Linked DNA regions of Homo sapiens: all the other regions are linked to region 3. The links come from fine-mapping of genetic effects on gene expression. A gene starts in region 3. Each other region holds a variant in brackets. All regions are shown on one strand. Distances are between the middles of the regions.

Evidence for each region. PIP is the estimated chance that this variant, and not a neighbour inherited with it, causes the effect.
Region 1: its variant is fine-mapped to the expression of MMS19 in monocytes (Quach 2016, PIP 0.95).
Region 2: its variant is fine-mapped to the expression of MMS19 in monocytes after R848 (Quach 2016, PIP 0.95).
Region 4: its variant is fine-mapped to the expression of MMS19 in rectum (CEDAR, PIP 0.95).

Annotation. Positions count from the first base shown.
Region 1 is chr10:97,471,939-97,479,325 of GRCh38, forward strand. MMS19 (MMS19 cytosolic iron-sulfur assembly component) reads right to left here. Exons shown (of 31, transcript NM_022362.5): 4 at 6,366-6,451; 5 at 5,917-5,991; 6 at 5,409-5,478; 7 at 4,897-5,025; 8 at 4,745-4,806. Among named protein-coding and RNA genes, the nearest start is that of MMS19, 23 kb to the right of the region's middle. The variant AGT/A (reference allele first, on the strand shown) is at 3,273.
Region 2 is chr10:97,303,670-97,311,056 of GRCh38, forward strand. It overlaps the pseudogene RPL12P27. Among named protein-coding and RNA genes, the nearest start is that of FRAT1, 12 kb to the right of the region's middle. The variant C/T (reference allele first, on the strand shown) is at 3,646.
Region 3 is chr10:97,494,689-97,502,075 of GRCh38, forward strand. It overlaps MMS19 (MMS19 cytosolic iron-sulfur assembly component), which reads right to left and starts at 3,734. Exons shown (of 31, transcript NM_022362.5): 1 at 3,585-3,734. The coding sequence starts at 3,696. It overlaps UBTD1 (ubiquitin domain containing 1), which reads left to right and starts at 4,236. Exons shown (of 3, transcript NM_024954.5): 1 at 4,236-4,585. The coding sequence starts at 4,516. RefSeq lists enhancers at 2,859-3,389, 3,066-3,115, 3,476-3,645 and silencers at 3,886-4,645, 4,656-4,855.
Region 4 is chr10:96,763,794-96,771,180 of GRCh38, forward strand. No RefSeq gene overlaps it. Among named protein-coding and RNA genes, the nearest start is that of PIK3AP1, 47 kb to the left of the region's middle. RefSeq lists a silencer at 2,093-2,182. The variant A/G (reference allele first, on the strand shown) is at 3,560.

The DNA of each region.
Region 1 (7,387 bases), 23 kb before region 3:
ATTAATGAGAGTTCCAAAATGAAGGAACAGAGAAAAGAGAGAGGAAGAAATCATCAATTAAAGAATTCAAGAAAAATTTACAGGACTAATGGACACGGGTTACCAGATTGACAGGGCCTACTAAGTACCCAACACAGTACATGAAATAGACCAATACTAAGGCACATCACTGTGAAGTTTCAATGTATCGGGGTGAACCAAACATCAGTTTATAGAGAGGAAGAAAAAAATGGTAAATACAAAAGTTTATGAAACAGAAGAAATTCAGACTTCTCCACAGCAAATGAAAACTAGATAACTAGGCTTATTTATTTATTTGAGATGGAGTTTTGCTCTTGTTACACAAGCTGGAGTGCAATGGCACGATCTTGGCTCACTGCAGCCTCTGCCTCCAGGATTCAAGCGATTCTCCTGCCTGTCTCCCGAGTGGCTGGGATTACAGGCTCACGCCACCATGCCCGGCTAATTTTTTTGTATTTTTAGTAGAAATGGGGTTTCACCATGTTAGCCAGGCTGGTCTTGAACTCCTGACCTCAGGTGATCCGCCTGCCTTGGCCTTTCGAAGTGTTGAGATTACAGGCATGAGCCACCACGCCCAGCCAATAACTAGATTTAAATGTAGCAATGCCTTCAAAATCTTAGGAGAAAATAATTTCCATTTTTTTTTTGTTTTTGTTTTTGGTTTTTTGGTGACTGAGTCTGGCTCTGTCTTCCAGGCTGGAGTGCAGAGGCATGATCTTGGCTCAATGCAACCTCTGCCTCCCCAGCCCAAGCCATCCTCCCACCTCCACCTCCCGAGTAGCAGGGGCTACAGACTCGACCACCACGCCCAGTTAATTTTTGTATTTCTTATAGACAAGGTTTTGCCATGGTGCCCGGGCTGGTCTTGAACTCCTGAGCTCAAGCAATCCACCTGCCTCAGCCTCCCAAAGTAGCGGGATTACAAGCGTCAGTTACTGCACCTGGCCTCTTTCTCAGGTGCAATCATAGTGCACTACAGCCTCAAACTCCTGGCCTCAAGTGATTGTTCTGCCTCAGCCTCACAAGTAGCTGGGACTGCAGACATGTGCAACTGCATCCAGCTAGAATTCTCTTTTTATTTATTTTTTTTTTTGAGATGGAGTTTTACTCTTGTTGCCTAAGCTGGAGTGCAATGGCGTGATCTCGGCTCACTGTAACCTCCGCCTCCCAGGTTCAAGCAATTCTCCTGCCTCAGCCTCCCAAGTAGCTGAGATTACAGGCGCCTGCTACCACGCCTAGCTAATTTTTGTATTTCTAGTAGAGACGGGATTCCACCATGTTGGTCAGGCTAGTCTCGAACTCCTGACCTCAAGTGATCCACCCGCCTCGGCCTCTTAAAGTGCTTAGATTACAGGTGTGAGCCACTGCGCCCGGCCTAGAATTTCTATTCTTGAATTACATGCCCATAATGTCAAAAATGAGAGACAAGATTGAAGGCATTTAAGGGTTACAAATCTAAAAAATTCTCACTTCTTCATACATTCTCTCAGGAAAATACTAAAGGAAGTACACCATCAAACTGAGGGGGTAAACCACAAAATGAGGAATATGTGAACTCAGGAAACAGGAGATCTGATCCAAGAAAAAGGATAAGGGAATCTAGGATGACGGTGAAGGAAGAACCAATATCTACTCTGCATTAGGAGTAAAAATCAACCTGTTGACATTGTTTGGCTAAGAATGGTTTTAACATTTTTAATGTTTGAAACAAACCAAAAGAATATCTTGTGACAAGTGAAAATTATATGAAATTCAAAGTTTAGTGTTGATAACAAAAGTTCTATTGGGATATAGCTACTGTAGCTGTTCCTGTGTCTAAGGCTGTTTTTGTGCAGTAACAGCAGAGTTGAGGAGACCATATGACCCACAAAGCTACTGTCTGGCCTTTTATAGAAAAAGTTGGCCAGGCATGGTGGCTTATGCCTGTAATCCCAACACTTTGGGAAGTCGAGGCAGGTGGATGGCTTGAGCCCAGGAATTCAAGACCAGCCTGGGCAACATGGCAAAATCCTGTCTCTATAGAAAAATACAACAATTAGTCGGGAGTAGTGTCATGTGCCTATGGTTCCAGCTACTCGGGAGGCAGGGGTGGGAGGATCACCAGAGTACCAGAGTCCAGAGAGGTGGAGGCTGCAGTGAGCTGTGATGGTGCCACTACACTCCAGCCTGCCTCAAAAAAAAAAAAAAAAAAGGGAAAGAAAAAGTTTGCCAACCTCTTCTTAGAGTGAGCATATAAGCATAGTGAAGAAACTGAACCTTAAGCTCATCAGATCCACTATGATGGCACACAATACTGATTTGTGGCTGGATATGTGGCTCACACGTGTAATCCCAGCACTTTGGGAGGCCGAGGCAGGTAGATCAGTTGAGGTGAGGAGTTCGAGACCAACCTGGACAACATGGCAAAACCCCATCTCTACTAAAAAATATAAAAAAAAAATTAGTCAGGCATGGTGGCACGTACTGTAATCCCAGCTATTCAGGTGGCTGAGGCACAACAATCACTCGAACCCCGGAGGCAGGGGTTGCAGTGAGCAAGGATTGTGTTACTGCACTCCAGCCTGGGCAACAGAGTGAGACCCTGTCTGAAAAACAAAACAAAACAGAACAGAACCAACAACAATAAAAACCCTGATTTGTAAGACAATAAAGAGTATTTGTAACTCAAATAGTTACACTAAAGCCAAGTGTCTCTGTTTTAATTAATATCTTGATAAGAGCTTTCTGCTTCTGATAGACTGCAGTGCAGAACAACATACAAAAATCTGCTTGAATGAGAGAAATCTTCCTAATATTATCTGTAAGTTTATTTTGCCTAGATTATCTCTGTGAAAATAAACAGCTGTGAACAGTGATTGTTTCTAATGGGAAAATGGACAGTAGCAGTAAAGGGGTATGAAAGAAGTTTAATTATCTACCCTTTAAATGCTGAATCATGCTCATTGTATAACCTTTCAAAAAAATGGATGAAATACTGTTCCTCTCCCCCAAATTATAAATGCACATATTCTTTGACCTAGCGATTTCTTTTAGGAATTTATTCTATCATTATATTCATATGTATGAAAGTTGTAGCACTGCTCATAACAGCAAAAGATTAGCAACAATCCACAGAGGACTAGTGAAATTATTCATTATTTCCGGCCAAAGGAATATTATGCAGCCATAAAGAATGAAAGAGCTAACTTATATACTGACGTGGAACACTCTCCAAGACATAGTGTTCAGTGAAAAAAGCAAAGTACAGGAGA[AGT/A]GTGTGTGTGTGTGTGTGTACATGCCCGCATGTGCACACATTGATTTTAGGGGGGTGGTGGTAAAAGCATTTGCTTACATATAGATGAAAAAGCTCTGTAAAGATACAAACATAACTGATAACTTGGTTGATTATGGAGAAAAAAAGATGGTAGGGAGATTTCTCACCCTTTTGGACTTTGAATCATGTGAATGAATTATCTTTTCAAAACCAACACAAAACACAAAATAAAACAAAGTAAAGGCTGGGCATGGTGGCCCACGCCTGTAATCCCAGCACTTTGGGAGGCCGAGGCAGTTGGATCACGAAGTCAGGGGTTCAATATCAGCCTGGTCAAGATGGTGAAACCCCATTTCTACTAAAAATACAAAAAAAATTAGCCGGGCATGGTGGCGGGCGCCTGTAATCCCAGCTACTTGGGAGGCCGAGGCAGAGAATTGCTTGAACCCAGGAGGCAGAGGTTGCAGTGAGTTGAGATCGCACCACTGCACTCCAGCCTGGGAGACAGAGCGAGACTCCATCTCAAAAAAGCAAAAACCAAACCAAAACAAACAAAAAAGAAACACACACACCAAAAAAACCAAAGTAAAAACAGAAGAATGTGGGAGCTAAACCAGGATCTTTCAAGATTTCAAGGGTATAGGGTTAGAATAAGAATTCTGATTATGAAAGAGATAAAAAGATTCATTTCAGGAGACAGGTGGTCCCCAGTAACATAATGTCAACTGAAATAAGCTGGTAAGAAATTCCCTACAGCAAAGATGGTGGTGTCATTATAAAGGCAGTGAGAGTCAATATGCTGTTTGGCATGCTGCAATAGAATGCCTTTTATTTCTTTCAAACCACTAATGCTTGCAGCACACACACCCACACGGTGATGAAACTCTTGAGTATTTGGCAGTAGAAGGGAACTCAACTGCAGAATGGGAGGAAGGCCCAAGAGGGTCAGAGCAAATACCTTCTGTACACTGTGCACAATTGTGCCTTCTTTGTTTTGTCACTTTGTTTCTATAGCCTGAGATGCCCTGTCCAACTCCAGAATCATATCTTCTGCATCCCTCACAAACCAGCTGAAATCCTATCTTAACTGTGAAGTCAGTTCCTGCCTACTCTAGCTCACACTGAACTTTTGTCTTCTCTGAACAGCTATAGTACTACTCATTTTCCTACCTAATCTCCTATTGTTACTTAAATGTTTCAGCCTTCAAGGGCAGGGACAGTGTTTTGCAATCCTGTAGCCTTCAGCACTAAATACAGTGTTAAGGAGCTTAAGAATTCCCCCCAATACATGCTGCTTTGAATCATTCCTCATATGTCAAATGCTTTTCCATTTCCTAGTTTATTAAAATATAAAATAATGAGGGCGGGGATGTCTATTTTGGTGACCTGTACCCTCAGTGCCCAGAACAGGGCTTGGCACATAGCAGACACTCAATAAATATATGATCAAACAATGAAGGTGCTACTTACAGGGGTAAAATCGATAGGGAAATAACAGGATGTCACTTCAAACAACTCCTCCACAAAGGGTCCTGTGGCAACAGAGAAAAAATGAGGTTGGTTTATCAGCTTCACTCATCTGATAAAGCTCCAATGAGCTAATCATGGCTACCACGATATACCCAGGCTATAGTCCCTGGAGATGAGGTCATGGACGATGCGGAAGGCCACCAGAAGATTACGGGGATCCTTTTCCCCATCCATCACCTGGATGAAGCCAAAGGTGAAGTCAGCTCCTAGGCTCTTTAGCTCTGGGAAGGAGAGAATAAGGTTACTATACTGTCCCACAGCACAGAAAGTGTGGGCTTTCTCCTAGCCTGTGTTCTCCCTCTGCTATCATTGCCTCCCCTTTCTCTTCAGGGCTGACCCTTTTTCCATTCCAAGAAAGTACTCAGTGAAGAGATGTGCAACAATATACACATTGCTGTGGAGGCAAGAATTTAAAACACTGGCTCAAACAAACTCTACCCTTTCTTTACTTCACTGGGAGGGAGCAGACCCCCTCTTTCCCTTTATCATTCTCTCTCAGGATACCAGCTCTTCTATATAACCCCAGGTAAAATGAGTCCTACTAATAGGGGAAAAAGTAGGATGTGCTTGCTTTTGACATTTCCCAGAAAGCTCTGTCTCTTACCTTCTTCCCGGGTTCGCATAAAATTGGTGATGATATTGTAGACTGTGTGTCGGTCCACCTGTGGCAGGGACTTGGGGGTGGGGGAGAAAGAAGTGAAGAAAATGCTCAAAGAATACCTCAGCTGACACAGCTAGTTCCTGCTTCATAATCTCTAAGTGAACAGTGCTCTTTATACCAGCATAAGATCAATCTAAGAGAAACTACAGAGAAAGGGTATGGATATTGACTCAGCAGCACAGCAGTGGTGCCAATAATTCAAACCTGCCTGACAGAGGGATGCCTTACTTTCTGTAGGTATAAGAGGACACAGGTCAGATCTAATGGCATGCACCCCTTTCCTTGTCCAATAACAAAGATGAGCATATAAACATACTGAAGAAGAGCATAAAAACATTCACAAGATCCAAAAGAATTCAGAACTTAGAAGGCAATAATTTTTGCTATTGAATCCCAGTTATGTCAAGGGGTAGAGACAGAGGAGAATACCAACATGACTGTTATCCCTCACCTGTACATGCACTTCCTGGAAGATGGCTTTAAGCACAGAAACAGCCAGCCCTGGGGGCAGGGCCACACACAGGCTCTGGGGGAGAGGAGAAGGTACGTGAATACCGAAGGAATTGCAGCATGGCCTCCAAGACACAACCCTACGACAGGCCTAATTAGCTACTGTAAGAATCACAGCATCCTGGTTGAGGAAGAAGCACTAATAGTGAGACTCTTTCTCAAGCTGATGAGTTCTCTGCAGCTCTTTCCAGATGGCTCTGGTTTCCAGTCCCCCAAAGTACACTTTTACTCTCTAGAGGGAAAACGGAAGTAGAGCTGGTAACACTAATTTAGTCCCACACTTGGGCACCTGCTCCTCAGCATGTGAACCATCACACCCAAAGCGCAAGGAGAGAACTAGACAAGGGCTCCCTTGAACAAAGTTATGTAATGAAATGAAGGAAAACTCACAAGTGCCTTCAAACCCTGCAGGACAGATGGGATCACAAGATGATGGTCCTTCAGCCGGTTCTCATAGAACAGTATCAGGTGTACCACTGCACAAACCAGATTCAGCCATTAGTTGACATAGGCACGAGAAGGGCCCAAGAGCTTTGTTCCTTCCCTAAGTCTATAACAGTTGTTTCTGTTTGGGTTCCACTACAAATTTTCTCTTTCACCAAGAGACATGTCCTGTGCCTTCCCATTTGAAGGTAGACACCTGATCAGTCGGGAAAATAGGGGAACATTTCTTAATATCCATTCTCATACAGGTCCACAGTAAAACCCATTCTCAGCCCAAAACTGCCTTTCTACAGAACTAGAGTTCACAAATTTTTTCCTAAAGGGTCAGACAGTAAATATAGGCTTACAGGGTATGGTCTCTATCCCAACTACTCAACTCTGCTGTTTTAACAAAAAAGTAGCATAGACAACAGGGAAATAAATGAGTGTAGCTATGTTCCAATAAAAGTTTATAAAAACAGGTGTATGATGTGTTTTTTTTAATGTGTGACATAAATTATTTTTTCTGTGTATCTATTTTTAAATTTATATAGATGATATTATACTAAACACAAATACCCACACACATATACCCCCAAACAGGCTGTAGGTTGGGCATGTGGTGCTTGCCTATAGGGAGGCTGAGGTGGGACGATCATTTAAGCCCAGAGGTTTAAGGCCACCCTGAGCAACACAGTGAGACCCTGTCTCCAAAAAACAAATAAAAGGGGTTCCCTCTCTTGGCTTTGGAGCCCTCCCTCCCTCTGCCTCTATACAGGGAAGATTCTTCCTTCTCCCTTCCTTCTTGCCCCTTCTTGCCTATTAAACTCTCCGCTACTTAAAACCACTTCATGTGTGTCGGTGTCGTTTTATCTAAACCAGCATGAGGACCAAGAACCCTGGTGTTCCTCCACTCATTGGAGCCGTATCATTTTGGTGTGTTGGCTGGGAAAGGAAATTCGTTCATCAGACTGAAGCAATCAAACTCC
Region 2 (7,387 bases), 190 kb before region 3:
TGGGCAACAAGAGCAAAACTCTGTCTAAAAAAAAAAAAGGCCGGGTGTGGTGGCTCACGCCTGTAATCCCAGCACTTTGGGAGGCCGAGGCGGGCAGATCACGAGGTCAGGAGATCGAGACCATCCTGGCTAAGAGGTGAAACCCCATCTCTACTAAAAATACAAAAAATTAGCCGGGCGTGGTGGCAGGCACCTGTGGTCCCAGCCACTCGGGAGGCTGAGGCAGGAGAATGGTGTGAACCCGGGAGGCGGAGTTTGCAGTGAGCCGAGATCGCGTCACTACACTCCAGCCTGGATGACAGAGCGAGACTCCGTCTCAAAAAAAAGAAAGAGGAGGAAGAGAGACCTGAGCTAGCACACTCAGCCTCCTTGCCATGTAATGCCCTGTACCATCTTGGGACTCTTCACAGAGTCTCCATCAGCAAGAAGGCTCCCACCAGATGCAGCCCCTTGACCTTGAACTTCTCAGCCTCCATAATTGTAAGAAATAAATTTATTTTCTTTATAAATTACCCGGTTTCAGGAACTCTGCTATAAGCAACAGAGAACAAACTAAGACCCTAACCCAGGCCTCAGGTCAGAAGGCCACAGGGGCTGGTGGGAAGTTTCAAAGCAGTAACACATTTGTGATAGTCAAGAGCAAGCCAGTACATTGTGAGCCCACTACGTTGGATGTTGCCTCCATGGTCTTGTGAACTGATGCACAGATCCCTTTTTCCTACCACTGTAACCCATTTTCATGGAGTTTGTTTTGGTATGAAGAGAAATTTTGCACATAAAGTCTCTATAGTGATTAGGAAGTAGGATGAAGGTCAGGAAAGGCACTAATATTTCCCCACCTCTCTGTCCTCTAGATATGGAGGCTTCAGAGTCAGCTTCAAAGATTCCCCCATTCAAAATCAGAAAGTAAGGCCAGGCATGGTGGTTCACACCTGTAATCCCAGCACTTTGGGAGGCCGAGGCAGGTGGATCACTTGAGCTCAGGAGTTCAAGACCAGCCTGGGCAACATGGCAAACCCTGTCTCTACAAAAAACAGAATTTTTATTTATTTATTTCATTTTTCTTTTTTCTTTTTTGAGACAGAGTCTTGCTCTGTCACTCAGGCTGGAGTGCAGTGGCACGATCTCAGTTCACTGCAACTTCCACCTCCTGGGTTCAAGCAATTCTCATGCCTCAGTCTCCTGAGTAGCTGAGATTACAGGAGTGCACCACCACACCCAGCTAATTTTTTGTATTTTTAGTAGAGATGGGGCTTCACCGGCCTGGCGTGGTGGCTCACACCTGTAATCCCAGTGAGTCGGGCAGATCACAAGGTCAGGAGATCGAGACCATCCTGGCTAACACAGTGAAACCCCATCTCTACTAAAAAATACAAAAAATTAGCTGGGCATGGTGGCGGGCACCTGTAGTCCCAGCTACTCGGGAGGCTGAGGCAGGAGAATGGCATGAACCCGGGAGGTGGAGCTTGCAGTGAGCTGAGATGGCGCCACTGCATTCCAGCCTGGGCAACAGAACAAGACTTTGTCTCAAAAAAAAAAAAAAAGAGATGGGGTTTCACCATGTGGCCCAGGCTGGTTTTGAACTCCTGACCTCAGGCAATCTGCCCGCCTCAGGCAATCAGTCATGAGCCATTGCGCTGGGCCTAATTTATGTGGGTGTTTTTTTTTTTGAGATGGAGTCTCGCTCTGTTGCCCAGGCTGGAGTGCAGTGGCGAGATCTCAGCTCACTGCAACCTCCGCCTCCCAAGTTCAAAGCGATTCTCCTGCCTCAGCCTCCCAAGTAGCTGGGACTACAGGCGCCCACCACCACACCGGCTAATTTTTTGTATTTTTAGTAGAGACGGAGTTTCACCATGTTAGCCAGGATGGTCTCGATCTCCTGACCTCGTGATCTGCCAGCCTCGGCCTCCCAAAGTGTTGGGATTACAGGCATGAGCCAACACCCCTGGCCTAATTTTTGTATTTTTAATGGAGACGGGGTTTCACCATGTTGGCCAGGCTGGTTTCGAACTCTTGAGCTCAGGTGATCTGCCCACCTCGGCCTCCCAAAGTGCTGGGATTACAGGCGGGAGCCGCTACGTCCAGCCAAAAAAAGTGCAAAACCTAGCTGGGTGCTATGGCTTGCACCTGCAGTACCAGCTACTCTCAAGGCTGAGGCAGGAGAATTGCTTGAGCCGTGGAGGTGGAGGTTTTAGTGAGCTGAGATCACACCATTGCACTCCAGCCTGGGTGACAGGAGTGAAACCCTGTCTAAAAAAAAAAAAAAAAAAAAAAAATCAGAAATAAAGGAAATTGTCCTTCAGCTCCTTAGGCTTACACATCCCCATCCAGGGATCTAGTCATTCCCATCCATAGGACTTACCTTCTTTCAGAGTTATCAAAAGAGCTGCTTTTGTTCATTCACTTACACTTTAATGTGAATTAAATACAAAACTACCTCTTCTGAAATATGTGAATTTATTTGTTTATTTATTTATTTATTTTGAGATGGAGTCTCACTCTGTCCCCAAGGCTGGAGTGCAGTAGCACAATCTTGGCTCACTGCAACCTCCACCTCCTGGGCTCAAGGGATCCTCCTGCCTCAGCCTCCCAAGTAGCTGAGATTACAGGCACTTGCCACCATGCCTGGCTAATTTTTATATTTTTAGTAGAGATGGAGTTTCACCATGTTGGTCAGGCTGGTCTCAAACTCCTGACCTCGGGTGATCCACCAGCCTCAGCCTCCCAAAGTGTTGGGATTACAGGCGTGAGCCACCACCCCCGGCCTGGAATAAGGACCGCTTCCAATTGTGAAAGAAAATGCTTGTTGCCCAGTTAACATAATTCCACATAATCATTTTGATTAGGAAACCTAAACAACTTCTGGAGAACTCAAGAACTCTGTCCCAGGCTGCCATTTCACATTTGCTGCATTTCTAGATGTGTTTATATGATTGCTTGAGTGGTGTTGTCTTCTACTGGAGTGTAGCTTCATGACTTAAGAATCTTTCGGCCAGGCACAGTGGCTCCCGCCTGTAATCCCAGGACTTTGGGGGGCCAAGGTGGGCAGATCACCTGAGGTCAGGAGTTAGAAACCAGCCTGACCAATGTGCCATCTCTACTAAATATACAAAAATTAGCCGGGCGTGGTGGCATGAGCCTGGAATCCCAGCTACCTGAGAAGCTGAGACAGGAGAATTGCTTGAACCCGGGAGGCAGAGGTGGTGGTGAGCTGAGATCGCGCCATTGTACTCCAGCCTGGGCAACAAGAGCGAAACTTCATCTCAAAAAAAAAAAAAGGATCTTTTTTATTTTAAGGCTGGTCAAGTGACACATTTGGCTTTACTTAGCCAACTATTTGTTGAATGAATAAAGGAACAAATGAATCAAACCAAAGATTCCTGGCCGGGCGCGGTGGTTCATGCCTGTAATCCCAGCACTTTGGGAGGCTGATGCGGGCAGATCACAAGGTCAGGAGTTCAAGACCAGCCTGGCCAATATGGTGAAACCCCATATCTACTAAAAATACAATTTGCCAGGCGTAGTGGCAGGTGCCTGTAGTTCCAGCTACTTGGGAGGGTGAGGCAGGAGAATTGCATGAACCCGGGAGGCAGAGGTTGCAGTGAGCCGAGATCACACCACTGCACTCCAGCCTGGGCTACAGAA[C/T]CAGATTCTGTCTCAAAAAAAAAAAAAAAATGCATAGAAACAATGAGATTATTTAGATCTTATGGAAAAAACACATCCTGCCTATATTGGACATAGGATTTTGTTCTGATGCATGCAGCATCTCTGTAGAGGTTCTCTGCTCCTTTATGCTCCTTTATCCTCAGTCCATGTGTTTTAAGTGGCATTGATCCCATTTCTGGCTACAGGAGTGGGCAAGCGACACAGGCCTGGCAAATCAGAGGAACCTAACCTCTAGATTCATGGATCTGACAGTCTAGACCAGCCCAACTCACTATAGAAAGGAGGTATGTGGTAAGGGCTCACTTGGAGGAACCAAAGAGAGTGGGAAGAAGGAGAGTGGGAGGAACCACTGACTCTTGGTGAGAGCAGAGATAGCTGCATGAGGAGGTTTGTAGCTGGACTAAGATTTAGATGGGTGGAATTCAGGGAGTGCATTCTCTACACAAAGAGCAGGAACAAACATGGGGTGATAGGAACATGTAAGATGTTTTTGAAAGCTGGCAAGGGCCCAGTTGACACGAACAAAAGGTTTATGTGGAGGTGGAGGACAAGATAAAGTTGGAGGAGTGGACCAGGGCAAGCCCCCCTGAGAGTTCTGGACACTGTGTTAAGGAGTGGAAGAGTTTACTCCAGAGGCCATGTGGACCTGTTCAGAGGGGAGGCCGTGGGTAACCTGAGCAGGGTTGGGCATTAGGAAGTTGATCTGTCAGAAGAGTGGATTAAAGGGAAAGAGGCCGGGGTTCTGACCCAAGATGCATGAACCTGGCCAAAAAAACATTAAGGGCATCGGGCAGTAGGACCGAAATAGAACCACCAGCTGAGGCACTGAAGAAAGAATCAGTGTGCCTTGAGGAACATAATAAGGCAGAGCTAAAAGACCAGACTCCAGAGGCTGGGTTATGGCATCTGGGTAGTGGTTTGAGAAGGGCAGGCTTTGGCATCTATCAAAACTGAGTTTGAATCCTGGGCCTGGCACTAGAAATATGTGTAATTCTGGGCAAGTTTACTTATTTCTGGGCCTTGGTTTTCTTATCCATGAAAAGGAATAATAATACCAAATTCAGAGGTTTTTGGAAGACTAACTGAAATAATATCCTTAAAGCAATTTTCAGGGTACCAGGAATAAAATAAATATCCAATGTAGCTAGTGGGTACAAAGTTTCTTCTAGGAGTGATGCAAATGTTCTAAAATTAGATTATGGTTACACAACTCTGTAAATATCTAAAAACCATTCAGTTGTATACTTTTTTCTGTGTGTGAGATGGTGTCTCGCTCTGTTGCCCATGATGGAGTGCAGTGGCGCAATCTCAGCTCACTGCAACCTCCGCCTCCCGGGTTCAAGTGATTCTCCTGTCTCACCCTCCCGAGTAGCTGGGACTACAGGCATGCACCACCATGCCCGGCTAATTTTTGTATTTTTAGAAATGTTTGTTTTTTGTGTTTTTTGTGTTTTTTTGAGAGAGTCTCGCTCTGTCGCCCAAACTGGAGTGCAGTGGTACGATCTCAGCTCACTACAACCTCTGCCTCCCGGGTTCAAGCAATTCTCCTGCCTCAGCCTACTGAGTAGCTGGGATTACAGGTGCACACCACCACGCCTGGCTAATTTTTGCATTTTTAGTACAGATGGGGTTTCACCATGTGGGTCAGGCTGGTCTCGAACTCCTGACCTCGTGATCCACCTGCCTCGGCCTCCCAAAGTGCTGGGATTACAGGCGTGAGTCACCACGCCCAGCCAAAAAAAGTTTGTTTTTTTTTTTGTTCAAATGATCCTTTATTGAAATATTTTGTTTTGTGCTTCTTCACTAGCTGGGCATATTCCACAACACCACTGTTGATGTCATCTGTGATGTCATGAGGGTGGCGACCATCAACATTATGGCCCACAGATTAGGGAGTCCCCAGGATTTTTTTTTTTTTTTTTTTTTTTTGAGACGGAGTCTTGCTCTGTCACCCAGGCTGGAGTGCAGTGGTGCGATCTGGGCTCACTGCAAGCTCCGCCTCCCCAGGTTCATGCCATTCTCCTGCCTCAGCCTCCCTTCAGCCTCCCCAGCAGCTGGGACTACAGGTGCAAGCCGCTACACCCGGCTAATTTTTTTGTATTTTTAGTAGAGATGGGGTTTCACCATGTTAGCCAGGATGGTCTCAATCTCCTGACCTCGTGATCCGCCCGCCTCGGCCTCCCAAAGTGCTGGGATTACAGGCGTGAGTCACCGTGCCCGTCCCCCAGGATTTCTTCAATGGTTCCAGAGAGTTCTCTGGCTAAAGATTGGTGACGCCTCTGTCAAACAATGTTGATGATCTCATCAAAAGTGATATTCCCACTGTGTTTAATGTGTTTCTGTTTCTTCTGTCTCTTGGTGGTTCCTTGAGAACTTTGATGATCAGGGCAGAGGCAGAAGGCACCACCTCAATCTGGGCCCGTCTGTTCTGAATGTTCAGTTTCACTGTAATCCCCAGGCCTTTCCAGTCACCTGTTGCCTTGGCAATGGCATCACCAACCTTTTTTAGAGACAGAACCAGGGGGCTGATCTTGGGGGCCAGTGAAGAAGTGGCACCAACTTCATCCCCGGTGCACCTCAGGTATACGACTTTAATCTTGTTGGGGTCGAACTTCGGCGGCATGGTGGAGGCGGCTGGTATTGGATGAACCTGGATTCAGGACGACCAAAGAAAGTTGCACCTTGGCCTCTTCTGAGCCAAAAGCTGAAAGCAAAAAATGTGTTTTTAAAAACAAACAAACAGGGCCAGGCACGGTGGCTCACGCCTGTAATCCCAGCACTTTGGGAGGCCAAGGCAGGCAGATCACCTGAGGTCAAGTGTTGAAGACCAGCCTGGCCAATATGATGAAACCTCATCTCTACTAAAAATACAAAAAGTTAGCTGGGTGTGGTGGTGCACCTGTGGGAGAATGGCTGGAACCTGGGAGGCGGAGGTTGCAGTGAGCCGAGATCGGGCCACTGAACTCCAGCCTGGGCAATGAGAGCAAAAACTCCATCTCAAAAAAAAAAGATCCAGAGGTAGGCAGTCCAGGACCATGTCTGGGGCCTTCAAAAGATCCAGGCAACAAAATAAAAGAAAAAGAGACAGGCTTGCCCCCTTCCTCACAGGGTTACTTTCCAAAGGTATCACATAATATGGCCCATTTGGCCAGGCGCGGTGGCTCACGCTTGTAATCCCAGCACTTTGGGAGGCCGAGGCAGGCAGATAATCTGAAGTCAGGAGTTAGAGACCAGCCTGACCAATATGGAGAAACCCCGTCTCTATTAAAAATACAAAATTAGCCGGTCATGGTGGCAGCATGCCTGTAATCCTAGCTACTTGGGAGGCTGAGGCAGGAGAATCGCTTGAACCCGGGAGGCAGAGGTTGTGGAGAGCCGAGATTGAGCCATTGCACTCCAGCCTGGGCAACAAGAGCGAAACTCTGTCTCAAAAAATATATATATATATTTATATACATACATAGCCCACTTATATTTCATTGACCAGAACTTAATCACATGGCCCCATTTGGCTGCAAGAGAAGATGACAAATGACCCCTTGTCTTCCCATCTCTTTGTTCTTTTGCAGGGGATAGAGATGGGTTCTTATGGTTCTGGTACAGCTACAATTTGGGGTTTATTAAAGAGGAGAGTGGTTATTGGGAGGCAAACAGCAGCCTCTGCTATAGCTACTACTTGTGTAAAATGGAGGCAGACTATAAATAAATAAACTATCTTTGA
Region 3 (7,387 bases):
ACGTGTTCAAAAATCACATTCTCTGAAAATCAGCTCTCGTCCTAATTTTGGACAAAGTATTTCTTTTCCTCATCCTCTGGTTCAAAACCTTGGGGTCTTCTTAGAGTCCTCTATCTCCTTCAAGCCCTATAATAACTAGTTAGAACTCAAATTCCACAGATTCTTCCTTCAACATTTCTCATTGCATTCACTCAAGCAGTTTTTATTGTGTACCTACTGATGCCAATTTCAGGAGATTCTGGTGGTACAACTGGGAGGGTAGGATGTGGAGATGTATACAGCAACAGCTACTAAACTAGTCCACTAAATACATGAGTGGTTGAGAAATAAGTGCGTACTACAAAGATTCTGACGTATGAGATGCTGTCTGGCTGGGTTAATCAGGAAACCCTTGGGGAGGGGTAGGGAACTCAAGCTGGGCCTTGACTCTCAGGTCTAACTTCGATTACACAGAGCTAGTGAAGGGAATTGGGAAGGAAAGCACTCAGGGAACTACGAATAAAGGTGGCTGCCTGGAATTAAACGTCCAGGGAGCAGTGAGAAAAAAAGGCTGGGGCCAGGTAGTGGCAGGCTTTGAAGGCTTGCCCAAGAGGCCTTTAACCCTTAGGCTGCCAGGTTATTTCCCTCCCATCGCCTGCAGCTTCTTTACAGCTGACACTTTCACCAGGAACCCAGGTACAAAACAAAGGTGGCAGCAGCTGCTTTTGTGATCAAAGGGTGCTCCTTCTGCATTTAAATTTGCAGGCTGCTACTCTGAGTGACTGAACAGGAAGCTAGCTGGTCCCTTTAGCGCTAACAAAGCTTGATTTAGGCTGAAAGATTAGAAAGCACATCTTATTCTATAAACGCTTCAACACTCTGTTATCCTTCAACAACCCTAACTAGGGCTGTGATCTAAGATTGACAATATTAACTTAATCCTTGTCAAATTTGTTTTCATTTTATGGCTCCCTGGCTCAAGGATCTACAACAACTCTTAGTACAGATAACAGGTCATTCAAATTTCTCTGCCTGGAATCCAAAGTTATACACAATCCAACCCTACCAAACCTTTTCAACTTTTATCTGTTACTATTCCTTTGTACCAACTTTCTTTTCTTTTTGTTTTTTTGAGACGGAGTCTCGCTCTGTTGCCCAGGCTGGAGTGCAGGGGCGCGATCTCCGCTCACGGCAGCCTCTGCCTCCCAGGCTCAAGCGATTCTCCAGCCTCAGCCTCCTGAGTAGCTGGGATTACAGGCATGCACCACCATGCCTGGCTAATTTTTGTATTTTCAGTAGAGCGGGGTTTCACCATGTTGGCCAGGCTGGTCTCAAACTCCTGGGCTCAAGCAATCCGCCTACCTTGTTCTCTCAAAGTGTTGGCATTACAGGCGTGAGCCACTGTGCCCACCACCAACTTTCTTTTCTTAGGAGGGCTAAATTACAACAGGGCTAGTGTTACAGTCTTAAATCAGTTGAGTTGAATTCAAATTAAGCAACAGTTTAGACCATTTTTTTTCAGAAAGAAACAAAAATATAAATTTTGCAAAAACGTTTGTAAGAATTTAGCAGTCCCAGTGGCTCATGCCTGTAATCCCAGCACTTCGGGAAGCTGAGATGGGAGGATGGCTTCAGTCCTGGAGTTAGAGACCAACCTAGGCAACATGGTGAAACCTCGTCACTACAATACAAAAATTAGCCGAGCGCAGTGGCACACTCCCTGTTGTCCCAGCTACTTCGGGAGGCTTGAGGCAGGAGGATTGCTTGAGCATAGGTCGAGGCTACAGTGAGCCATGATTTCACCACTGCACTCCAGCCTGGCAGACAGAGAGGGACCTTGTCTCAAAAAAAAAAAAAAAAAAAGAGAAGAATTTGCAGTCCTTATTCAAGATAAGTCCTTATTCAAGATAAGACATTCAAGATGTCTTTTCAAAATATGTTCTGAATCAAAAAAAAATCCAAAATTATTGTTTTCGTATCGCATAAATGTGAAAGACTCATCACAAATGACACTGATATAGTAATGTTCTATATCTTCGTAGGGGGTTGGATTGTATAGGTGTATGCATTAGTCAAAATCAGTGAACGTACACTTAAAGGTTTATATATTCCATTTTACATCAAAATAAACCGTCAACAAACTCTAGTCAATGACATGCATGCCAAAGTATTTAAAGGAAAGTGTACAGGTATCTGCAATTTAAATGGATGGATAGCTATATGATAAAGCAAGTAATATTAAAATGTTAATGGTAGGATAGATCCTAAGTGATGTGCTCCTTATAAAATTCTTTATACTTGGCTGGATATTCGAAAATTTTCATAATAAAATATGAGGGAAAATGACATTGGTAAGACACTGTACTTGTAAATTGTAAACACTGATAACACACTACATTTCATAAAATTGTAAGATGTTAAGTTTGGTGGCAGCACCAGGTATTTGCTCCTTGATGCTTCCAAACTACGCTGCACACACCTCTTACAGAATGGTTGCCTCTCCCAGCATACTATAAGTTCCTGGTGGGCACAGATCTAACCTAATTTGTATTTATATTCCTATTGCTTTGCATCATGTTTGGGGAATAATATGTATTCAACAATAGTGGCATGATTGAATTAAAGTGGAATACTGCTAACGAACAAAGTATTATATTTCTAGCAGATTCACTATTCTTTTCTTACATATTCTAAAGGTTAATACGCTCAATATCCAAGAGAAATGTGTCCTTACTTCTCTCCAAGCATACGAAATTTCCAAAGTTTTTTTAAAAAAACTACTCATTAGATAATTTTATATTGTTACTTAAACCCAAGATCTGAAGGCCTCCTAACATTCAATAACTTTTTAGTAGTTTTTTTTTTTTCCTAGAAGAGCAAAGTCTCAGAACTCCACGGAAGCCTGGAAATCGTTTTATTCTAATTTTAGATAAGCTGTCTGAACTAAGAGATCTCTGAACTGGTCAAAAGCAGGAAAGTGGGGGTCTGGGAAGAAGACAAAAACAAACGCCACATAAAACGTCATGGAGCAAACTAATCAAGAACTTTAGCAAGAAACGGAGAGAAAGTCTTAAGGAGGACACCCAGAACATCTCCAGCTCCTCCTGGCCCGTCTCCTCAACTCCTCTTAATTCCAGCCAGTCAGAGCGCGGGGCCATCTGCCACTCCCAGGATGCCACGCGACGGGAGCGGACGCTGCGAGGATGCACCTCCACACGTCAACCTCCCACAAACAGCATGGCTTCGTGGCGTGAGCACCCGGTTCGGACCTGAACGCCTGGGTCCGAGTCCCACCTCCCCCTCCTGCCTGGTCTGCAGCCCTGCGCAAGTCCTCTTGCCCTCGCTGAGCCTCAGTTTCCTCATCTGTAAAATGTAATGATTCCCTATAATTGGCTACAGGGAGATGAGAAGTGTAAATGGTTTTAAGGAAGACACAGGCAACTCTCTAACTTGTTACGGCTCTGAACCTCGCGGTGCTCACTAACCAGCCTTGAGACCAATCTCTCAAAGTCACCCCGCTCCTCCCTTCCCGCCCGGCGCCTGTACTGAGGCCGCTCCCTCCTGTTGGCCCCCATGCGGAAGGCGCGCGGCGCCGTCTGCCGTACCTGCAGCCACCTGGTCAGCGGGGCCCTCTTGCTGACCCACGACGAAGTCGTGCACGAGGCCCCATAGGGCACCCATAGGCGCCGCCGCCTCCACAGCCGCGGCAGCGGCCATAACGCGAACTAGAGACCGTGGGAGGGGATATGGGCGGTGGCTCGAGACGGGCTCTCCGCGCATGCGCCTCCCGAGCCAATCTCCGGGGAAGCGCAAGGGGGCGGGGCGCCGGGGTCACGTGCCTGCCGGCTTCTGCCTAGGCAGTTCCAGGGAGGGGCGGGGCCTGAAATGGGGCGGTGGCACCGAGAGGGAAGGCGGCTGCTGGGCACGCAGCCGGAGGCGATTGAGGGCGAATAATTCCCAGCCCGGCTCCCCGGGAGACGGGCTGCGGGGCGGGCACCTGGCTGGGTGGGGAGAGGGGCGGTACGCACCACGGGGGAAGCCAATGAGAAAATCAGGCCCAGCCCTAGGGGGCGGTGCTGTCGGTCACATGCGCACCTGGGGCGGGTGGTGGCGGCGGCGCGGGCACCGCGAGCCGGCGGAAGGGAGAGGGGCCGGCCTGGGGCGGGGTTAGGCAGGTGAGTGACAGGCTCCAGGGGGCCGGCCCCTGCCTGGTGCCCCGAGCGAGCCGGGAGTAGCTGCGGCGGTGCCCGCCCCCTCTCTCCGCCCCTCCAGCGGAGCTGGTCTCCGGCCGGGCACCGTCGCGGGCCCCCCTGGCCCGGCCACCTGGGACCGTGCTGGGGAGTCTGCCACTTCCCTCTCTCCCCTGGCCCGCAAAGTTTTGGCGGAGCCATCGCTGGGGCTGAGCGCGCCCCCGGGGGGAGATCGGGGAGCGCCCGATGCCGGGCGGCCGGAGCCATTGACCCGGGACGCCGCCGTCCGCTGAGCAGCCGACCACCCCGCCGCCTCCGGTGCATGGGGACTGGCTGAGGAGCCAGCATGGGCAACTGCGTGGGGAGACAGCGCCGGGAGAGGCCGGCAGCCCCGGGACACCCCCGCAAGCGAGCAGGTAACGATGGGGAAGGGAGCAGGGCCTCGGGCATCCCGCCAGTTGTCCCCCTCCTCGCCCGAGTCCTGGGCTTACCGATGGACTCCCCACTGGTGCTGGCGCTTGGGTTTCCCCGATGGGCTGCTCCGCAGCCAGAGGGGGCCGCTCCCCAGCGCCGGGCGGCCGGGGGAGCTGAGTTGGGGCAACTGCGAGCACTGAGCCGGCTGCGCGACCAACTCTCTCCAACTGGGTAGCTCCTGGTGGGGGTGGGGGCAGGAAATGTTTGCAGACCGCAGCGGGGCCGACGGATCGGGAGGAGGCCGGGGGCGAGGGCGCCGCTGGCCTGGCAGCTCCGGCCGGGGTCGGACGCCGGCCCGTCGGGGCACGGCGCGGGCAGCCAGGCGTCCCCAGAACTCGGAGCGAGCGAGGCGAGAACAGTCGCTCCTTCCAAAGACTGTGTCATTATCGAGCTGCAGATCGTGTCTGCGGGAATCCGACTTGCAAAGCAGCGCAGGACTCTGGGAAAGAAATCTTTATTTTTCCCGCAGGGGTTTTTAGAGCCTCTCGGCCGTCTGGGAGTCTATAAAAGATGGGGTGCGGGGTGAGAGTCACCCTTGGGATTGTTGGGATCCTTCCCAGCTTTGGGAGTGAGATCGCTCGCTGGTGATCCTCCAGGCCCGCGCAACGCTTTCTCACTTTCATGGTACACCCCGCCTGCCCTGGCATTTCGCCCCGGGAAGAGGTCTGTCGGTCATTTTTCTGGGTCTTACACTCACTTCCTTCTTTGAGGGTGTTGCAAGGACCCGCTGGGAATAATATCGTAGACTTGAGAGCTCAAACTTGTCTGGATTCCAGATGGACCCATCTCCTACTCTGTGTCAAAGCCCAGATCCTGAGAGGTTGAACACCTTGTCCAAAGTCACACAGCTAGTTAGGAGCTCACCTGGGGCTAGAACTCAGCCTCCTCTCCCACCCCATTGCCACATATCCCCTTATGTAAGAGGAGCCACAGGCAGAGTTGTTAATGAAGTGGAAACTCTAGTTGGAGTTTCCTGTCTCCCTTGACACCGAAGGTGTGTTGCTTGGGTTGCGGAAACTGGGAAGGAAGATGGGGGAACCAGGGGAAGCAGGGAAGGATGTCTGCATGGTGGACAGGATGACTTGTGGAGGCAGAAATGTGTTTTTATGGGAAGGATGCAGTAAAACTTATTGAAATTCTCTTGTCTGAAGGTAACTCTGGCCATTCTTCTGGCTGAGGAGAGATGACTCTCAAAACCAAGGGCTGGCTTGCTTTCATTCATTCATTTGTTCAACAAATATGTGTTCAGGCCCCATAATTGATTTTGCAGCATTTTTTGCTGTTGACAACTCTCTCCTACGAGACATTCCCCCCCTTCCTTTCTTGGCATCAGACTGTCTTGGTTTTCCTTTCTGAACACCCCTTTCCACCATCACCTTCTAGCTTGGGGGCACGCTGGTGCTTAAGTTTGACATTCTGTTTTTTCTCTCATTACACTCTCTCCCAGAGAAATCTTGTTCAGTCCCACAACTCTTTGTCCATTGGGAATACCCCTATGCTTAAACTTCAGCTCTTCTCTCTTGAACCCCAGAACCCCATCTCTAGATGCCCACTGGACACTGTGATATAGATATTCCCAGATTTAACACCTCCAAAACCAGGCTCTGCATCGCTCCCTGTCCACCAGCTTTCCTTCTTTACTCTTATGTTCTTCCAGCTGCCTAACTTTAGGCTGTGAAGAGCTCTTTCTCTCATGACTTTCTCTGCTTCCTTGTCGCCTGCCTCTCAGCCAGTCATTGGGGTCTGCTGGGTCTTCCTTCCGCGGGACTTGCAAACCTGCCCCTTGCCACCCTACTTTGTACCCTTCTCACCTCAAGTCAACCCTTGTCTCAGGCTGAAGTGAGGTACCCCCCAAAGGCAACTTCATCTTCAGTCATCATTCAGTCCTACACACAGTTGTCCCCACAGAAGACATTTGTTAAATTAACTTCTTCCAGATTTTATAGTTCTGTGTTCAGAATGTTTCTGTACTTGGCCAGGCGTGGTGGCTCATGCCTGTAATCCCAGCACTTTGGGAGGCCAAGGCAGGTGGATCACCTGAGATCAGGAGTTCGAGACCAGCCTGGCCAACATGGCAAAACCCTGTCTCTACTAAAAATACAAAACTTAGCCAGGCATGGTGGTGGCAGGCGCCTGTAATCCCAGCTACTCAGGAGGCTGAGGCAGGGAGATTGCTTGAACTGGAAGTTTCGCAGAGGTTGTAGTGAGCTGAGATTGCGCCACTGCACTCCAGCCTGGGTGACAGAGCGAGACTCTGTCTCAAAAAAAAACAAAACAACAGCAACAACAACAACAAAACACCTTTCTGCATTTTCCCACTCCTACAAGTACTTTAACTTTCAAGGCTGTTCAAGTGTGGGCCAGTCCTTTCTTTTAAGTCCTGATTTCTTTCCCTTCTCTGACATTAAGACCACCAGTGTTTGCTCGTGCCATTTCCTTCTTATCGAGAGTCTTTCATCCTTTGGGTTCATTTCAAGTGCCGTGCCTTGTTTGAAGCACCTTGCCTGACAAGTCTGCCATTTCCCCCTCCCTCCGCACCCCACCACACACACCCCGTGGAAGTGATTGCTCCTTCTGAGAACTCCTGCAGACACATTATCTATGCCACTTACTTAACAATTATGTACTCTGTATTATTAATCATGTCTTTGATGTTTACAGTCTTTTATCAGCAACTACATTGCAAGCCTTGAAGACCTGGGTTCTGTCTTATCCTTGTAGTATATGTCTCTCTCACGCACACA
Region 4 (7,387 bases), 730 kb before region 3:
TAGAAAAATGATTGTTTACCATAGCTGTGATAAATGACTGACTTGCTTTTTTACTGGTAGCTTTGTTTTTCATCTCCTTCATCCCTATGCAGCTCTGTTTTTTTTTTTTTTTTTTTTTTTTTTTTAGGAGTCTGGCTCTGTCTCTCTGTCTCCCAGGCTGGAGTGCAGTGGTATGATCTCGGCTCACTGCAACCTCCGCCTCCCAGGTTCAAGTGATTCTCATGCGCCACCACACCCAGCTAATCTTTGTATTTTCTGTAGAGACGGGGTTTCGCCATGATGGCCAAGCTGGTCTCAAACTCCTGACCTCAGGTGATCCACCCGCCTCAGCCTCCCAAAGTGCTGGGATTACAGGTGTGAGCCACTGGGATTACAGGAGGCAGCTGGCCTCCTATGCAGCTCATTTTGATGTATAATGGGTACATCTGAAGCAAGAGAGGGAGATGGAGTCCAAGCACCAGAGCTCACTCATCAGGGATTCTCATGGGGGCAGTTATGAGGGAAATGGGGAACATTCTCATGGGAGGAGAAAGGCTTATAAATTAAGCCGGAGAAGTTCATTAATAAATAGGCTGTCCACATTAACACCTGTCAATAAACAGGATTCGAAATGGCAGGTGAGGAGCTACAGAGGGTACTGCATCTGGAAACCTGGTGGGCAATGGCTCAGAGTCTGAGGGCTGAAATGAGGAAGTGCGGTATCAGCATGGAGCAAGCCAAGCCCACGGGAGCAGTGAAATGGGCCAATACTTAATCAGTATGCACCACAGTCTCACCATACAGTGAGACCCAGAAAGACATTTGTTCTGCTAGAATGCACATTTCTGTTATGGGAATCAGCTCACTGCAGAAGTAAAATTATAGCCATCATCAGGGAAGGAAGAAGCGCTCAGCTCAGCTGCTACACTAATTGCATGAGCCCTTTCAGCTGTATTTTAGGAAAATGGCAATGAGCACACACACCCAGGGCCCTTTTCCCCAGCTCTCAGCCAGGTTGCACTGCTTCCTGGATCCACCTGACTAGCACTCAGAGCCCACCACCATCTGCACTCTTTCAACACTTGCCAGACCAGCTCTAATTAAAGTGTTGCCAGCATGTTCCCACTCTATCACATTGAACATTTTAAATATCTACTGTGACAGTCTCCAGCCACACTGAGGCAGTCTGGGCAGTCCAAGTTATCTCCTTATGTGCAAACCACTATTTTTATTAGCATTCTGGTTACAGATTTCCACAGATTACGAGTGATCTGCCTCTAACCCTATTTTCCCCATAAGCCCTATTACTCTTACTGCTTGATTTTGCCGAACACAAGGTTCTTGAGGAATGCCTAAGTGTTGGGTGCTCCACGCACTGCCTTGGATCCTCTTGGCCACACCTCGATTCCTGCTATTATTTGAGGACACAATTCTATGCAGGCTTCAACTCACCTCCTGTGGCCCTGCCTCACCTCAAGCATGCGCTGTACATCTTCCCCTGACCCCGCAAGGTTCTCCGATGCTGTGGTGCGACGTGCCTGCGGGAGCACCCCGGCACTCGCTGATGTGAAACCTACAAGCGCAAGGGCGTTACAACCTTCAAGATGACCCTCTGTCAATGCTAGATGGGAGTTCATGGGGGAACACTTACAACTTCTGCCTTTCATCCATTGGGTGGTCAGTTTGAGGCACTATCTGTATACAACTCCTCAGAAGTTGCTGTTGGGATGGAAGCCCCCGTGCCCACTGCAGTCACCAATGTGACTGGCTTGGTTTTCCTTCTTCCCTGGTCAGTTTCCTTAGTCTCCACCCCTGCTCCCTGGTATCACCACTGTCCACAGTAAACTACACACACAGTTCCTTGTACCAGGCTTGTCTTCCCAGGGGAATAAGACAGCATGTGCTGCATTAAAATGGAAACACCTTTACTTACTTTTACGTACTGTTAATCAACAGTCACTGCCCAGTTCTTCCAAGTGGCCTTTATCATCCCTTCCCTGTAACTTCCTGGGTCCCCGTTTGAGACTCCCCCAAAGGAGTAATGTCACGCACAGCAGGAGGCTGCCAGCAGGGGGCTCCAACCCTACACCAACATCTGTTCTGAAGGTGCCTCAGCCGGACTAGTGATAAATGCTTTAGATTTCACCCTGGCAGTGAGATACAGGTAAAGATAAGTGCCTATTCAAGCCCTATGTTCCTTTTACTGGCGATTCATGTAAACCACACTCCTAATGAATTGAGGACTAATTTTTTTTTTGAAACAGGATCTCTCTGTTGCCCAGGCTGGAGTGCAGTGGCACAGTCATAGCTCACTGCAGCCTCAACCTTCCAGGCCCAGGTGATCCTCCTGCCTCAGCCTCCCAAAGGACTAAGATTACAGGCAGGCATCACCACGCCTGGCTAATTTTTTTTATTTTTCGAAGAAACAGGGTCTCACTATGTTGCCCAGGCTGGTCTCGAACTCCTGTACTCAAGCAATCCTCCTGCTTTGGCCTCCCAAAGTGCTGAGATTACAGGCCTGAGCCACTGAGCCCAGACACAACTGTTTTAAAAGGCAAGGTCAGTGGACTAGGTATTTGAACTATACATTCATGGCCAGACGCAGTGGCTCACTCCTGCAATCCTAGCACTTTGGGAGTCCGAGGCGGGCAGATCCCCTGAAGTCAGGAGTTTGAGACCAGCCTGGTCAACATGGTGAAACTCCGTCTCTACTAGAAATACAAAAATTAGCCAAGTGTGGTGGCACGTGCTTGTACTCCCAGCTACCTGGGAGGCTAAGGCAGGAGAATCACTAGAACCCAGGAGGTGGAGGCTGCAGTGGGACAAGATCACACCACTGAACTCCAGTCTGGGTGACAGAGCGAGACTCCATCTCAAAAAAATAAATCAAATCAAATCAAATGAACTATACATTCATTATGGATGACTCAAAAAGGTTGGGTAAATATTAAAAGTAATAAGAGACCTAGGAAGGAAATAAAGAATTATGAGGCCAAAGGCCGGGCGCCGTGGCTCACGCCTATAATCGCAGCACTTTCAGAGGCCGAGAAAGGCGGATCACGAGGTCAGAAGATTGAGACCATCCTGGCTAACACAGTGAAACCCTGTCTCTGCTAAAAATACAAAAAATTAGCCGGGCGTGGTGGCCGGCGCCTGTAGTCCCAGCTACTCGGGAGGCTGAGGCAGGAGAATGGCGTGAACCTGGAAGGCGGAGCTTGCAGTGAGCCGAGATGGCGCCACTGCACTCCAGCCTGGCGGACAGAGCGAGACTCCCGTCTCAAAAAAAAAAAAAAAAAAAAAAAAAGGCCGGGCGTGGTGGCTCACACCTGTAATCCCAGCACTTTGGGAGGCCGAGGCGGGCGGATCACGAGGTCAGGAGATTGACGCCATCCTGGCAAACATGGTGAAACCCCGTCTGTACTAAAAAATACAAAAAATTAGCAGGCTTGGTGGTGGGTGCCTGTAGTCCCAGCTACTTGGGAGGCTGAGGCAGGAGAATGGTGTGAACCCGCGAGGCAGAGCTTGCAGTAAGCAGAGATCAGGCCACTGCACTCCAGTCTGGGCGACAGAGCAAGACTCT[A/G]TCTCAAAAAACAAAACAAAACAAAACAAAACAAAACAAAAAAACACTATAGTGGTTCCTCAAAAATTTAAACAAAATTACCACATGATCCAGCAATTCTACTTCTGGATATACATACTAAAGAATTAAGAGCAAAGATTTGAACAGATATTTATACACCCATGTTCATAGCAGTATTATTCACAATAGCCGAAAGGTGAAAACAACTGAAATGTTCATCAACTGATGGATGAACAAACAAAATGTGTGATATACATACAGATATATATACAGTGTGATATACATACTCAAATGTTCATCAACTGATGAATGGATAAACAAAATGCGTGATATACATACAATGTAATATGAGTCAGCCTTTAAAAGGAAGGACATTCTGACACATGCTACAACATGGATGAACCATGGATGAGATACGCTAGGTGAAGTAAGCCAGATGCAAAAGGACAAACATTGCATGATTCCACTTATATGAGGTAACTAGAGTAATAAAATTCACAGAGACAGGAAGTGCAACAATGGTTACTAAGGACTGGGGTTGGGGGAAGAGAATCAGGAGTTATTGTTTAATGCAGCAGTCCTCAATCTTTTTGGCACCAGGGACTGGTTTTGTGGAAGACAATTTTTCCATGGACAGGTATGGGAGGGGAAGATATTTTTGGGATGATTCAAGGGCCTTACATTTACTGTGCACTTTATTTCTGTTATGATTACATTCTAATACATAATGAAATCATTATACAACTCACCATAATGTAGAATCCTTCGGAGCCCTGAGCTTGTTTCCCTGCAACTAGGCAGTCCCATCCGGAGGTGATGGGAGACAGTGACAGATCATCAGGCATTAGATTCTCATCAACAGTGGGCAACCTAGATCCCTCATATGTGCAGTTCACAGTAGAATTCATGCTTCTATGAGAATGTAATACCGCTGCTGATCTGACAGGAGGCGGAGCTCACGTGGTAACGCAAATGACTGGGAGCGGCTGTAAATACAGATGAAGGTTTGCTCCCTCACTCGTCACTCACCTCCTGCTGTGTGACGCGGTTCCTAACAGACCACGGACTGATACAGGTCTCTGTACCCTGGTTTAATGGGTACCGGGTTTCAGCTTGGGAAAATGAAATGTTCTGCAGATAGATGGATGTGATGGTTGCACAACAATGTGAATATATTTATGCTACAGAACTATACACTTTTAAAGGTTTTAAAATAAGTTTTATATGAAACTGACATGTTTTCAGAAAAAAATACATTTCATATTATGTGTAATTTACTACATTACATGAGTATAATAATAAAAACCTAAAACTCAACAGATGGTTGGGAGGCCTAGGCGGGTGAATCACTTGAGGCCAGGAGTTACAGACCAGCCTGGCCAACATGGTGAAACCCCATCTCTACTAAAACTATAAAAATTAGCCAGGTGTGGTAGTGCGTACCTGTAATCTCAGCTACTTGGGAGGCTGAGGCAGTAGAACTGCTTGAACCCAGGGGACGGAGGTTGCAGTCTGCAGAGATCACACCACTGCCCTCTAGCCTGGGAAGCAGAGTGAGACTCAGTCTCAGAAAACAAAAAAACAAAACAAAAACCCTCAACAGATGGGTTTATACTTTATTAGCTACAGTCAAATCAATCAGTGAATGGAGCAGGGGTCAGAAGAAAATTCCCAGAATGCAGCACAGAGGAACAGAAGTCACCCCAAAGAATAATATAGAATTTATGCTCTAGTCTCTGGCATTGGTTTTATGAGTCCTATTTTGGGGTTTCCCCTTTTATAGTAGAAGTTAGGCTTAATATGAGCTACCTTACATGCTCACCCATAGGAAAAAGAATGCCAGCTTTGACATAAGTATGCATATGCATTGTTCCATTTAATTTAATTAATTTAATTTCATTTCATTTATTTAATGATTCTAAGAGAGAGGAACCATGAATCCATTTTTGGGATGGATACTGAAGTCAAGTAGCTTACCCAAGGCCACACACCAAAAAGCCAAGATTCAACACAGGCTAATACAACTCCAAGCCTGCGTTCTTTCTAATACATCAGACTGTGCCTCAAGTGTTTGTTTATTCATTCATTCATTTAATAATTACTGTAAAAAATTAATTTAAAAATAATTATTGTGTATCTATTACAAGTTAAGACTAGGGGCCAGGCAAGGTAGCTCACGCCTGTAATCCCAGCACTTTGGGAGGCTAAAGCAGGCAGATTGCTTGAGCTCAGGAGTTCAAGACCACCCTGGCCAACATGGTGAAACCTTGTCTCTACTAAAAATACAAATAATAATAATAATAATAAGCTGGGCATGGTAGCATGCGCCTGTAATCCCAGCTACTCGGGAAGCTGAGGAAGGAGAATCACTTGAACCCGGGAGGCAAAGGTCACAGTGAGCCAAGATCACACCACTGCACTCCAACCCAGGTAACAGAGAGAGACTCTGTCTCAAAAAAAAATAATAAATAAAACAATAAAAAAAATCTTTTTCAATGGCTCCTCTTCTTCCCCAACTTATTGACACTGGTTTGGGATTAATATGTTTCCATTTCTTTTTTTTTTTTCATGCCCTCCAGACTGGAGTGCAGTGGCACGTTCATGGCTTACTGCCACCTTGACCTCCTGGGGCTCAGGTGATCCTCCCACCTCAGTCTCCTAAGTAGCTGAGACTACAGGTTCATACTACCATGCCCAGCTAATTTTTATATTTATTGTAGAGACAAGGTTTCACCATGTTGGTCTCAAACTCCTGGGCTCATTGATCTATCTACCTTGGCCTCCCCAGTATGCTGGGATTATAGGTGTGAGCCACTGCACCCAGCCAATAAGTTTCCGTTTTGTTGTTGTTTGAGATAGAGTTTCACTCTGTTGCCCCGACTGGAGTGCAGTGGCCCAATCTTAGCTCCCTGCAACCTCCGCCTCCGGGGTTCAAGTGATCCGCCCACCTCAGCCTCCCAAGTAGCACTTTGGGAGGTCAAGGCAGGCGTATAACCTGAAGTCAGAAGTTAGAGATCAGTCTGGCCAACATGGTGAAACCCCATCTCTACCAAAAATACAAAAAAATTAGCTGGATGTGGTGGCGGGTGCCTGTAATCCCAGCTACTCGGGAGGCTGAGGCAAGAGAATCATTTGAACCCAGGAGGCAACCCAGTTGCAGTGAGCCAAGATTGTGCCACTGTACTCCAGGCTGGGCAACAGAGCAAGAGTCCCTCTCAAAAAAAAAAAAAAGAAAAAAGAAAAAAGAAAGAAAGAAAGAGTGTGCTTATTGTGGGGCTAGCCAAGCTGGAGGATGAGAGATAATTCTCAAATCCACCTCATCAAGAATTTGGAGGGTAGGGTTTTTCATGGATAGCTCAGTGGGCAGGGGGCTAGAGAATGAGGAGTGCTGATTGATTGGGTCAGCGATGAAATCATAGGGGATGAAGCTGTCTTCTTGTGTTGAGTCAGTTCCTGGGTGGGGGTCACAAGACCAACTGAGCTAGTTTCTTGGTATGGGTTACTGGTCTAAGTGGAGCCAGCTGGTCCATCAGAACGTAAGGTCTGAAAAATACCTCAAACACCAATCTGATATTTTGCAATAGTGCTGTTGTCTATAGGAGCAACTGGGGAGGCTACAAACCTTGTGACCTCCAGCTACATGACTCCTGAACCATAATTCTAACCTTGTTAGTTTTACAAAGGAGGTTTCAATCCCTGAGCAAGGAGTGCATTAATTTTGGGAAGCACTTGTTGTCATCTTTGTTTTAAAGTTAAAGTATAAGCTAAATCCCTACCATAGTCAGTTTGGCCTACCCCCAAGAATGAACAATGACAGTTTGTGACGTT